2 separate regions of the Homo sapiens genome follow, and region 2 is linked to region 1. The links come from fine-mapping of genetic effects on gene expression. A gene starts in region 1. The other region holds a variant in brackets. All regions are shown on one strand. Distances are from middle to middle.

Region 1 (5,539 bases):
TAAACAGAACCAACAACAAAAACCACATGATTATCTCAATACATGCAGAAAGGGCCTTCAACAAAATTCAACAACCTTCATGCCAAAAACTCTCAATAAACTAGGTATTGATGGGACGTATCTCAAAATAATAAGAGCTATTTATGACAAACCCACAGCCAATATCATACTGAATGGACAGAAACTGGAAGCATTCCCTTTGAAAACTGGCACAAGACAAGGATGCCCTCTTTCACCACTCTTATTCAACATAGTGTTGGAAGTTCTGGCTACAGCAATCAGGCAAGAAACAGAAATAAAGTGTATTCAACTAGGAAAACAGGGAGTCAAATTGTCTCTGTTTGCAGATGACATGATTGTATATCTAGAAAACCCCATCATCTCAGCCCAAAATCTCCTTAAGCTGATGAGCAACTTCAGCAAAGTCTCAGGATACAAAATCAATGTGCAAAAATCACAAGCATTCCTATACACCAATAACAGACAAACAGAGAGCCAAATCATGAGTGAACTCCCATTCACAATTGCTTCAAAGAGAATAAAATACCTAGGAATCCAACTTACAAGGGATGTGAAGGACCTCTTCAATGAGAGCTACAAACCACTGCTCAACGAAATAAAAGAAGACACAAACAAATGGAAAAACATTCCATGCTCATGGATAGGAAGAATCAATATCATGACAATGGCCATACTGCCCAAAGTTATTTATGGATTCAATGCCATCCCCATCAAGCTTCCAATGACTTTCTTCACAGAATTGGAAAAAACTACTTTAAAGTTCATATGGAACCAAACAAGAGCCCACATTGCCAAGACAATCCTAAGCCAAAAGAACAAAGCTGGAAGCATCATGCTACCTGACTTCAAACTATACTACAAGGCTACAGTAACCAAAACAGCATGGTACTGGTAATGGCTGCACAACTATGCAAATATACTAAAATCCATTGACTCATACACTCTAAATGGGTGACCTTTATGGTGTGTGAATTATGTCTCATAAAGTTGTTAGAAGTCAACATAAATGGAAGAGCAACCATTCACATAAAAATAAACAAAATTGTCAATGTTTTAAGAATTTTTCAGTAGGTGTAGTTAATTACAATTTGACTTTTTTAAGTCTGCACTAAAATTACTCACCAAAACCAATAGCAGGGTCCTCACTGCTGTTACTGAAAATGATTAACCTTTGATACACTTGTAATATCTGAGAAAAAGAAATGCAGGGGTCTCAGCAGGGCTCCCTTCTAAGGTCACTTGATTTCTAAAGAAGTAACCACTAGGTTTGAAGTCATCAGGATGTTAACTATGGGGATGGTTGGTTCAGTACCCAACATCCTGACAGCACATCTGACCATGTATATTGTATCGGAGACCACATCCTCAGCTCAGAAAAAGAGCTGAACTCATTTCAAATAGAAAGCACACTGCATACTGTTCCTCCAGGGACTGAGGTTGACTCTTCTTAGAGTGAGACATTCCCCAACATTGGAACAAAAATGACTCCCACTTCTTTTCTCACCTAAACCTGTTCAGAAGAAAGTAAGGAAGAAAGGCAGGAAGCAGGGGTCGGGGGGGGGCGGGGAGGGAGGGAAACTCGGAGATACTTTCAGTATCTAAAGTTGTGAAACTAGACAATCAGGAACGCACAATCAGAGGGCTGAAAAGGGCCAAGAGCCCCTACCCTCCTCCAGCCCATGTTCCCACACCTGCCACAGACCAGGCAGGAGCACAATAAACACTCACCACAAAGTGGGGAAGGAAAATCCAGGCAGGAGCCTCTATGTAAATAAATCTCCCTCCTGTCCTCAGCTTGCACTTGGCCTGCTAATTCTTATATAACCCAAGGAGACAGCTAGAAAGAATTTTGATTGGTGACCAATTTTGAGGACTTTTATTAAAATTCTAATTTAAGTCTTCGAGAGTTTCCAGTCATGGATACTACAGATAATATTGCAGATGATGAAAGCGTCTTCAAAATCATAGCTGAGACACTTTACAGTCTTCCCTGGTGTACTCTGATGGCAACAAGGTCCCTTGCCCCTCTCCTACCCTGTAGAATTCCAGCGCCCCCCTCAGCAGTCCTAGCAAAGGAAAGCCTGCCTGCTGGCAGTGAGCCATCATCCACCATTCTCACTTATTTGGATTTGGTTTCCTAATGCTAAACTTTGAAACTTGAAAAAAAAAATGAAAGGAAACCACATCCTTTTTACTCTCAGTATATAGATAGAGGCAGTTAAGAACTGAAAACAGATTTTCAGGTTGATTGATGTGGGACAGCAGCCACAATGAGGAACTCCTATAGATTTCTGGCATCCTCTCTCTCAGTTGTCGTTTCTCTCCTGCTAATTCCTGAAGGTAAGACTGATTCTTCTCATTTCCATTATGACCATGAAGCAAAATGGAGCAGACTTTCAATGAACTTTTGGCAATATTACCTTCCTATACTGAAAGAAGATGTTTTCCCCCAAGCCTTATAATGTTTAGCCAGGCACAATGGCACATGCCTGTAGTCCCAGCTACTAGGAACGCTGAGGTGGAAGGATCACTTGAGCGCAGGAGTTTGAGTCCAGGCTGGGCGACATAGTGAGACCCTGTCTCTATTTTTTTTTTTTAAATAGCATTCTTTCTTGGATTTTAAATATGTCTGTATTTTAGAAAAAAAAATCTTTTCTTCTCATAATTATTTTGCAAAAGATAGCAGAACCACCAATGCTTATTGCTGCCAATTTGTAACTTGAAAATTGCCAAAAAGGACAATGTAAAAATGAGTTAACAAAACTCTCTTGTTCGTAAAACAAATAGTACCTTCCAGGAAAGGAATAGTGGCAACTTAGTCAGCTCAGCCTTTCCTGCTGCAGAAAATGCATAGATAAAGACAATTAAGACAAATCTGACCTAGACACCAAAAGTGAATCAGGAATTATTAGAATTTTTATACTTATTTCTCTGGTCTAGAGACTCTTTGGCAATAAATTAAGGCGTGAGGCCAGTTCCCTCATTAACCCTTTGGGTGTGCTATAGTATTTTTTATTAAGCTAATTTTTTGTCTACCAAATGGTAACCAATATTTCTGCTTTTGTGTGAGTTGAGCATGCATGGGTTAAAATGCTGTATAATTCATGGTATTACCACTGAAAGGGTGACAGCTCTTGGGGAGCTCTAGATTTCCCTTGAAGAACCTGCTAGGAAGTGAGGACTACTCTCAAGCTGTGGCAATATGGAGCCAGCCACGGTTTTTCCCAGGATTCATCAGCTTTTGGAGGCAGGGACTTATGTAATAACCTGCCTTGCCAGGAATTCCCAAAGAACTCTGGTTTATCATATTTAGGTGCATATCTGGTTTATGCACCTAAATATGAGAAGACTTTGGGAGGCTGAGGTGGGTGTTTCACAAGGTCAAGAGATGGAGACCATCTTGGCCAACATGGTGAAACCTTGTCTCCACTAAAAAAACAAAAATTAGCTGGGTATGGTGGCACGTGCCTGTAATCCCAGCTACGCAGGAGGCTGAGGCAGGAGAATCGCTTGAACCAGAGAGTTGGAGGCTGCAGTGAGCTAAGATCGTGCCACTGCACTCCAGCCTGGTGACAGAGCGAGACTCTGTCTCAAAAAAAAAACAAAAAAGAGAGAGAGAGAGAAGAAATATAAAAATAACAAGGCTGCAGGACATTTGGGACAAAGGTTGGCTATGTTATAAGCAGGGCATAGTATGACTATATTCAGGCATGTTAAATCCTCCATAACAGAAAAACACAGGGCAGATAAATCCAGCCATATCTTTTCTTCAAAGGAAAACAACAAAAGCAACCTGCTGTGCTCCTCTTTGTTTCCTGTGTTCAGAGAGGGCAGTGTGGGCCCATATAAGGAACAGACAGCAAAGCAAGGCACAGTTGAAATCTATCTGTACATGAATCACCCTAGGAAAATTGGGATTGGGTGAAGGTCTTTTGTTTCTATAAGCTCTTTACCCTTTTGTTTCTAGAGCCTAGAATTTCTTCCTCCCAGTTTCCTTTTTAAAAGCAGAGACCTCTGCTTTTTCAAATCACACTAGCCACATTTCATGTGGTCACTCTCCTCCTTGCTCTTACCCTCATCAAATCTTACGAAAGGCTTCTATAGCTGTCATTAATACTTGCCTGTGAATTTGGCAATGACTTAGTCCTAATTATGGAACAAGAGGCACTGTGCCCTATTCAAGAAACCATGAGTCTCAGCAAAACTATTTTGGGAGAATCCAAGAACATCTGGTGCAGGAGGTGGAGCACTCGGAGTGTATCACTAAGACATAAGGTTCTCTCTATCTGCATGTATGGTTTGCCTTGTGTTTAGTTCTCACTGTTCCTTAACAATGGGTCTCTACTTCAAGACTATCATCAAGGAAATGTCACTTAGGCAGAATTCTTGGCATATGGTATCTTCTCTCTTCTCTTCCCTATCTCATTGGAAAAGACCTTAGATTAAACCCCATGGTTTGGTCTAGAGATTGAAGGGGAGGTGCAATCGATGTTATTTTCTTAACTTATGAGTGAGAACAGTGCAGTTTAATAACCAAAAGTCTCATAATGACCAAAGGACTGAGGGGTAGGGTCACAGCTAAACGATGCTAATATCGGTTCATAAGCTATATTTTTGCAATGGCTTGGGGTTAAAAGGGAAGTTATGAGGCTTCTAAAAGTCTTATCTATTTCCCCCAAATTAATAGTTAGCCAAAAAGGGTGGGAGCACTTGAGGTTGTCACTACCACTGGCATTTCCTGCAGCAACTGTTGATGGTAAAGACCAAGGCAGAGCTTTCTGCCCTGGGGCCTGAGGTTGCTGGTTTGTGACATCCAGCCTAATGATCCTGGAACAGTCAATGGCCTCGCTTCTGTGGGTGGAAAAACAGGACCCTAGAGTCCAACAGGAATAGGATTTGCATCAGATGTCTGCGGGTCTACATAGAGTAAAAGCAGGGGAAATGCTCTCATCCAGACTTCCTCTCTGAGTGCAAAAAGCATGGCTGGTCTTAGAAACATGACTTTGTGTAGAGCTCTTTGGGGGTGAGCACCAATCTGATTTGTCTTTTTCCATTGAACAGATGTCTGTGAAAAAATTATTGGAGGAAATGAAGTAACTCCTCATTCAAGACCCTACATGGTCCTACTTAGTCTTGACAGAAAAACCATCTGTGCTGGGGCTTTGATTGCAAAAGACTGGGTGTTGACTGCAGCTCACTGTAACTTGTAAGTGCCTGGGTTTTTAAAAAAAAGTTTGTAAAGATACTCTAATTTGGGGAAACATTAATAAAAAGAGTAGGCCGGGCACAGTGGCTTACACCTGTAATCCCAGCACTTTGGGAGGCCAAGGCAGGTGGATCACATGAGGTCAGGAGTTTGAGACTAGCCTGGCCAACATGGTGAAACCCCATCTCTATTAAAAATACAAAATTAGCCAGGCGTGGTGGCGCATGCCTGTAATCCCAGCTACTTTGGAGGCTGAGGCAGGAGAATTGTTTGAACCTAGGAGGCAGAGGTTGCAGTGAGCCGAGATCGCAC
Region 2 (5,000 bases), 27 kb after region 1:
GTGATATTGTTTATTCTATTGGTAATAAACAATAATAATGATACATGAGAAATCAGATAGATTGATGGAAATTTGATAAATCCCCATCTCAAGGAGCCTATCAGAAAAAAAAATTCACTCATTTTCTATAACTGTACTCTTAATCACGGCTTCAGGTGAAAAGGAGAACTGAAAGTATCTTCCTCTCTCCAAAGCTCCAAAACTGGAGATTCTACAAGCCCAACTTTAGTTTCAGAGAAAATATATTTTTAAATATGACAGAAAGATTGTGGTGGAAACTAACCAGAGTATCCTTACGTTTTCATTAAAAACCATTCAGTAAAAAAAAAAAAAAAAAAGCGGAATGTCATCTCCTTTTATTCCCCATACTTCAAGAGCCACACCTAGTTTCTCTATTTTACATTAACTTGTTATTAAAAGTCAATTATAGTGTAATAATACACAGAGAACATGATGAGAAAAAAAAAAACTGGCCAGTACTTGCACTTCTCCCTCGCTGGTGCCAACTGCCAGGCAAGTTCCCTCTTTTATCCAGGACACAGAAGAGATATAGTTACAAGTGAGACTTAAGTCTATGTTTTCAATCCCATTGTGGTTCTCCCCATTCCAGATGTATACAGCAGAGCCCAGGGCTATGGCAACAAGATTCTGAAAACTCCAATCTAGGATATTCAGATCTATAAGAAAAGCACTTCAAATTAGTATAATTATACAGCCACATGAAAACATGTTCAAATAAACAACTTTATAGGTAGGGGGAAAAGAATAATACCATCCCCATGGTTAGCTGGAAAATGGAAACATGGAACCATGAAAATCCTTAAAAGTTCAAAAATGAAAAGTGGAATAGAATCTAGTGTCAACACTCACAGTCTAATAAGCAATAATGCTTATTATTTACACTGAAATATATTTATTTAGAGCCATTTAAAGAACTTGGCAGATTCATCTACCATTATTAGTACATGTAGACTTCGTTTAACGGATCAGTAAAAGTTAAAAGCATATAATTCTTATGGAGACACTCTTGGACCTAGGATATCTATATGGGAGATGCCACCATCATTTCTAACCAAAAACACCACCCAGCTAGAAGAGGTGGTGGTTCATGTATGATACCTACACGTTCTCAACAGTATTCTATAGCTTATACTAATAAGAAACCTTTGACTGCTAAGAGAAAACATATTTGTATGACCATTTATTAAAATATACCCTATCTTATTTCTTATCAGTCAGAAACTCCTGACTGACACGTATCAGTATAAAACTAAGTAGCACACCAGTTCCCCTACAGTAGTTTAAACCCCTACAATACATTCCGTCCCCATGATAAATATAAACTCTGAATGAAATATAAAAAACAAACACCTGGAGATCCTGTAAAGTAAGGAAAAGCAGTAAACTAAGTAAGGGAGTCAAAATTTGGAGAAGCAAACTGGCGGGGGGTAAGTTTCCCACTTTTCTTCTTTCACACCTTTGCCCTGAGGACAGGCCCCATTGATGGAGTGCCAGCGAAGACTCTGACAAAAAGGCCACCATATTTCTGGTCAGAGAAACCATGGAAAAGAGCCTGAGGCATAGAACTGATACCAGTATGAGGGAAAAGTCCTAGACATGGGAAAGCCAAAAGAAAGAGATCCTCTGAGTGTGAGTATATTAATTCACACACATCTCAGCCTTACCCCTAAATCACCTACATGCAGAAGAGACTCAAATCACCTTAGTAAAGGCTTTAAGAAACGAACTGAGATTTGAAACATCCATACAAGTCTCAGCCTAGGCTCTGATCCACATGTATGAGATACAGACCCAAACCAGCATGGTCAAAGTTTAAGAAACTGATCTAAGATTTGAAACACCACCCACAAATGGCAAGACAAAACTTAAAATGTGAACCTAACTAGAACAAAAACATCAACCAGAACAAAACATCAACATTCTCCACAGGACCCAGTGACTATAACATAACATCTACAATATCCAGACACAATTCAAAATTACTGGATAAATGTAAAGACAAAACATAACCAATAGATGAAAACTCCAAGGTGACCTAGGTATAGAAATTATCAAAGACTTTAAAGCAGCCATTATATTCTCCATGAAGTGAAGAAAAACACACATGAAATGAATGAAAATTTATATGAAACTTTATATGAAGCTTTAACAGATAAACAGAAAAATCAAAAGTATTTTCTAAGTAAAGAAAATAGAAACCATAAAACAAAGCTCTAAAATGGAAATCAAATATACAAAAACCACAAAATACAAACTTTAAAATGGAAAAATATAATATCTGAAAAATTCCTTGGATACACTGAATAGCAGGATAGAGGTGATAGAGGAAAGAGTAAACTTGAATATAGATAACAGAAATTATTCAATCTAAAGAATGTGGAGAAAAAATTTCTTAAAGAATGAAGCCTCAGCGAATTGTGGAATAATATCCAAAAATCTAACATATGTGTAAGTAGAGTCAGGTCTTAGAAGCAGGATAACAAGGTGACCATGGGGTTCTCACCAGATACCATGGAGGCCACAGTCAATGGAACAACATCTTTTAAATGCTGGGGGTAGGGGGCAGTGGTGGATCTTTCAACCCAGAATTCTATATCCAGCAAAAATCTCATCAACTGGAAGATGGAAAATCTAACAGAAGTCTGTGCCAACTGACCTGATCTGCAAGAACTGCTAAAGGAAGCTCTTCAGGCTAAAGGGACAATATATGAAAGAGAAACTTGGATCTTCAGAAATGAAGGAGAACACTGAAATTGGTAAATATTTGGGTGAACATAGGAGCCATTTTTTCCTCTTAAGCTATTTAAATACTTTTTAAATTTTAAAACGTTTACAATTGGATGGTTTTCAGTGTATGTAAATATAAAATGCATGACAGGCCAGACACAGTGTCTCACACCTGTAATCCCAGCACTTTGGGAGGCCAAGGTGGGAGGATCACTTGAGCCCAAAGAGTTCAAGACCAGCCTGAGGAGTAAAGTAAGACCCCATCTCTATAAAAAATCAAAAAATTACCTGGGCATGGTGATATGTGCCTGTGGGCC[C/T]AGCTACTTGGGAGGCTAAGGCAGGAGGATCACTTGAGCCCAGGAGGTAGAGGCCACAGTAAGCCTCTACAGCCTCCAGCCTGAACCACTGCACTCCAGCCTGGGTGACAGAGTGAAAACCTCCCTCAAAACCTCCCTCAAAAAACAATAACAAACAAACAAACACATGACAACTACAATAACCTAAAAAGTAGTGGGGACTTTGAGAGACCTATGTGATTGCAAGATGTTTATATATTGTGTGATGTGTACAATAGTAACTCTACGTAGACTAAGAAAGTTAAAATTACATTGTAATCCCTAGAAAAATGACGACAAAACACAATACAAAGAGATATAGCCAAAAAGCTAAGATCAATTAAAATAGAACAGAAGTAAAAAAAGAAAAGATGTCCAAGGAACAGGCCTTGGGTACTCCAACATTTAGAGGTCAGGGAAATGGAAGAGAAACACAAATCAGCAAAAAAGGATGAGAAAGAGTGAACAAAAGACACTCTTGGACAAAACCCAAAAGAGTGGGATATCAAGAAGGAGGGATTGATCAGCTGTCTCAAATATAGTTGTTAGGGTTCGGTATGAAGTCTAAGAAGTAACTGTTGGCTATAACAATGAGGAGTTCTTTGGTAATGTTTGGAAGAGTAGTTTCAATTGAATGATGAGACTTAAAACTTGACTAGAGTGGATTTGAGACAATATGGGGAGAGAAATAGAAAATTATAAGTATAAAGATCTTTTGAAAGTTGTACTGTCAAAGGGAGGAAAGAAAGAGGGCTGTGCGTCTGGGCATGGTGGCTTATGCCTGTAATCCCAGCACTTTGGGAGGCCAAGGCAGGCGGATCACTTGAGGTCAGGAGTTCGAGACTAGCCTGGCCAATATGGTGAAACTCCATCTCTACTAAAAATACAAAAATTAGCCAGGCATGGTGCACATGCCTGTAGCTACACGCCCAGCTACTCAAGAGGCTGAGGCACGAGAATTGCTTAAACCCAGGAGGCGGAGGCTGCAGTGAGCCACTGCACTCCAGCCTGGGTGACAAAGCAAGACTCTGTTTAAAAAAAAAGAAAGAAAGAAAAAGGGCTGTGGCTTAAAGGAAAAATGGGAACAAACATTGTTTCTTTTTAATATAACAGTTTTTTAACATTTTTTGAAAATCCATCCTTCTTAGTTGGTCATGACAATACATTCTCTTGGAGAAGGAGCTGAAGGAATAGGGAGATAGAGAACTGTTCCCTTCAGGGATTTTTCTTTTTCCAGCTCATGCCTCTTTTTAGATATTCCATGGAGCCCAGACCCCTTCCCTCTGCTCCTCTCTCCCTCATCTAGGGAGCTTACACTGGCTCCTGGATTCAATCATAATCATCTGACCTACGGGCTAGTCCATCCTCTTTCAACTACCAGCATTCGTTTCAAATAATCTGCCAAACTGCTTCTATGTCTGATTGTCTCCTTTAAAATAATATTCAAGCATAGTCTTTCCTCTCCAAATCACCTCCTCTGCCAATCTGTCTTCTCAGTGACACCACCCTTCTTTCTCCTGCTTCAAAAACTTGGAATAATCATGAATTCATTTCTCATCCCATTTCTTTTCTTCATGGAGGAAAAATAAGCCTTTACTCTTTGGCAGCTCTTTCCTACTAAGTGCATTCTGCATACTCTGCCATGAATTTTCCTTTGATGTTTCTCTTAGTCAACAACTCCCAAAACAAATCTAAATTTCTGAATTTGAATTTTTCTCCATAATCTGTACCCACCTATTCACCAGTCCCCAATGTATCTTCTTCATTGCCATTAAATATCTTAATTACCAACATCCTGCCTTCTTCATGCTGTTAACAATACCAAAAATGGTCCTTCTCCTCTATACCTTTCCAAGTTCTAATGATCTTCCAAGACCCAGCTTAAGTATAAATATCTCCACAACGTCTTTCTGGACA

The links. PIP is the estimated chance that this variant, and not a neighbour inherited with it, causes the effect. A credible set is the group of variants that fine-mapping cannot tell apart.
Region 2: its variant is the best candidate, but not a certain one, in a credible set for the expression of GZMA in whole blood (INTERVAL, PIP 0.72).

What each region holds. Positions count from the first base shown.
Region 1 is chr5:55,100,392-55,105,930 of GRCh38, forward strand. GZMA (granzyme A) reads left to right here and starts at 2,255. Exons shown (of 5, transcript NM_006144.4): 1 at 2,255-2,361; 2 at 5,083-5,227. The coding sequence starts at 2,292.
Region 2 is chr5:55,127,941-55,132,940 of GRCh38, forward strand. It overlaps CDC20B (cell division cycle 20B), which reads right to left. Exons shown (of 12, transcript NM_001170402.1): 7 at 481-677. Among named protein-coding and RNA genes, the nearest start is that of GZMA, 28 kb to the left of the region's middle. The variant C/T (reference allele first, on the strand shown) is at 3,066.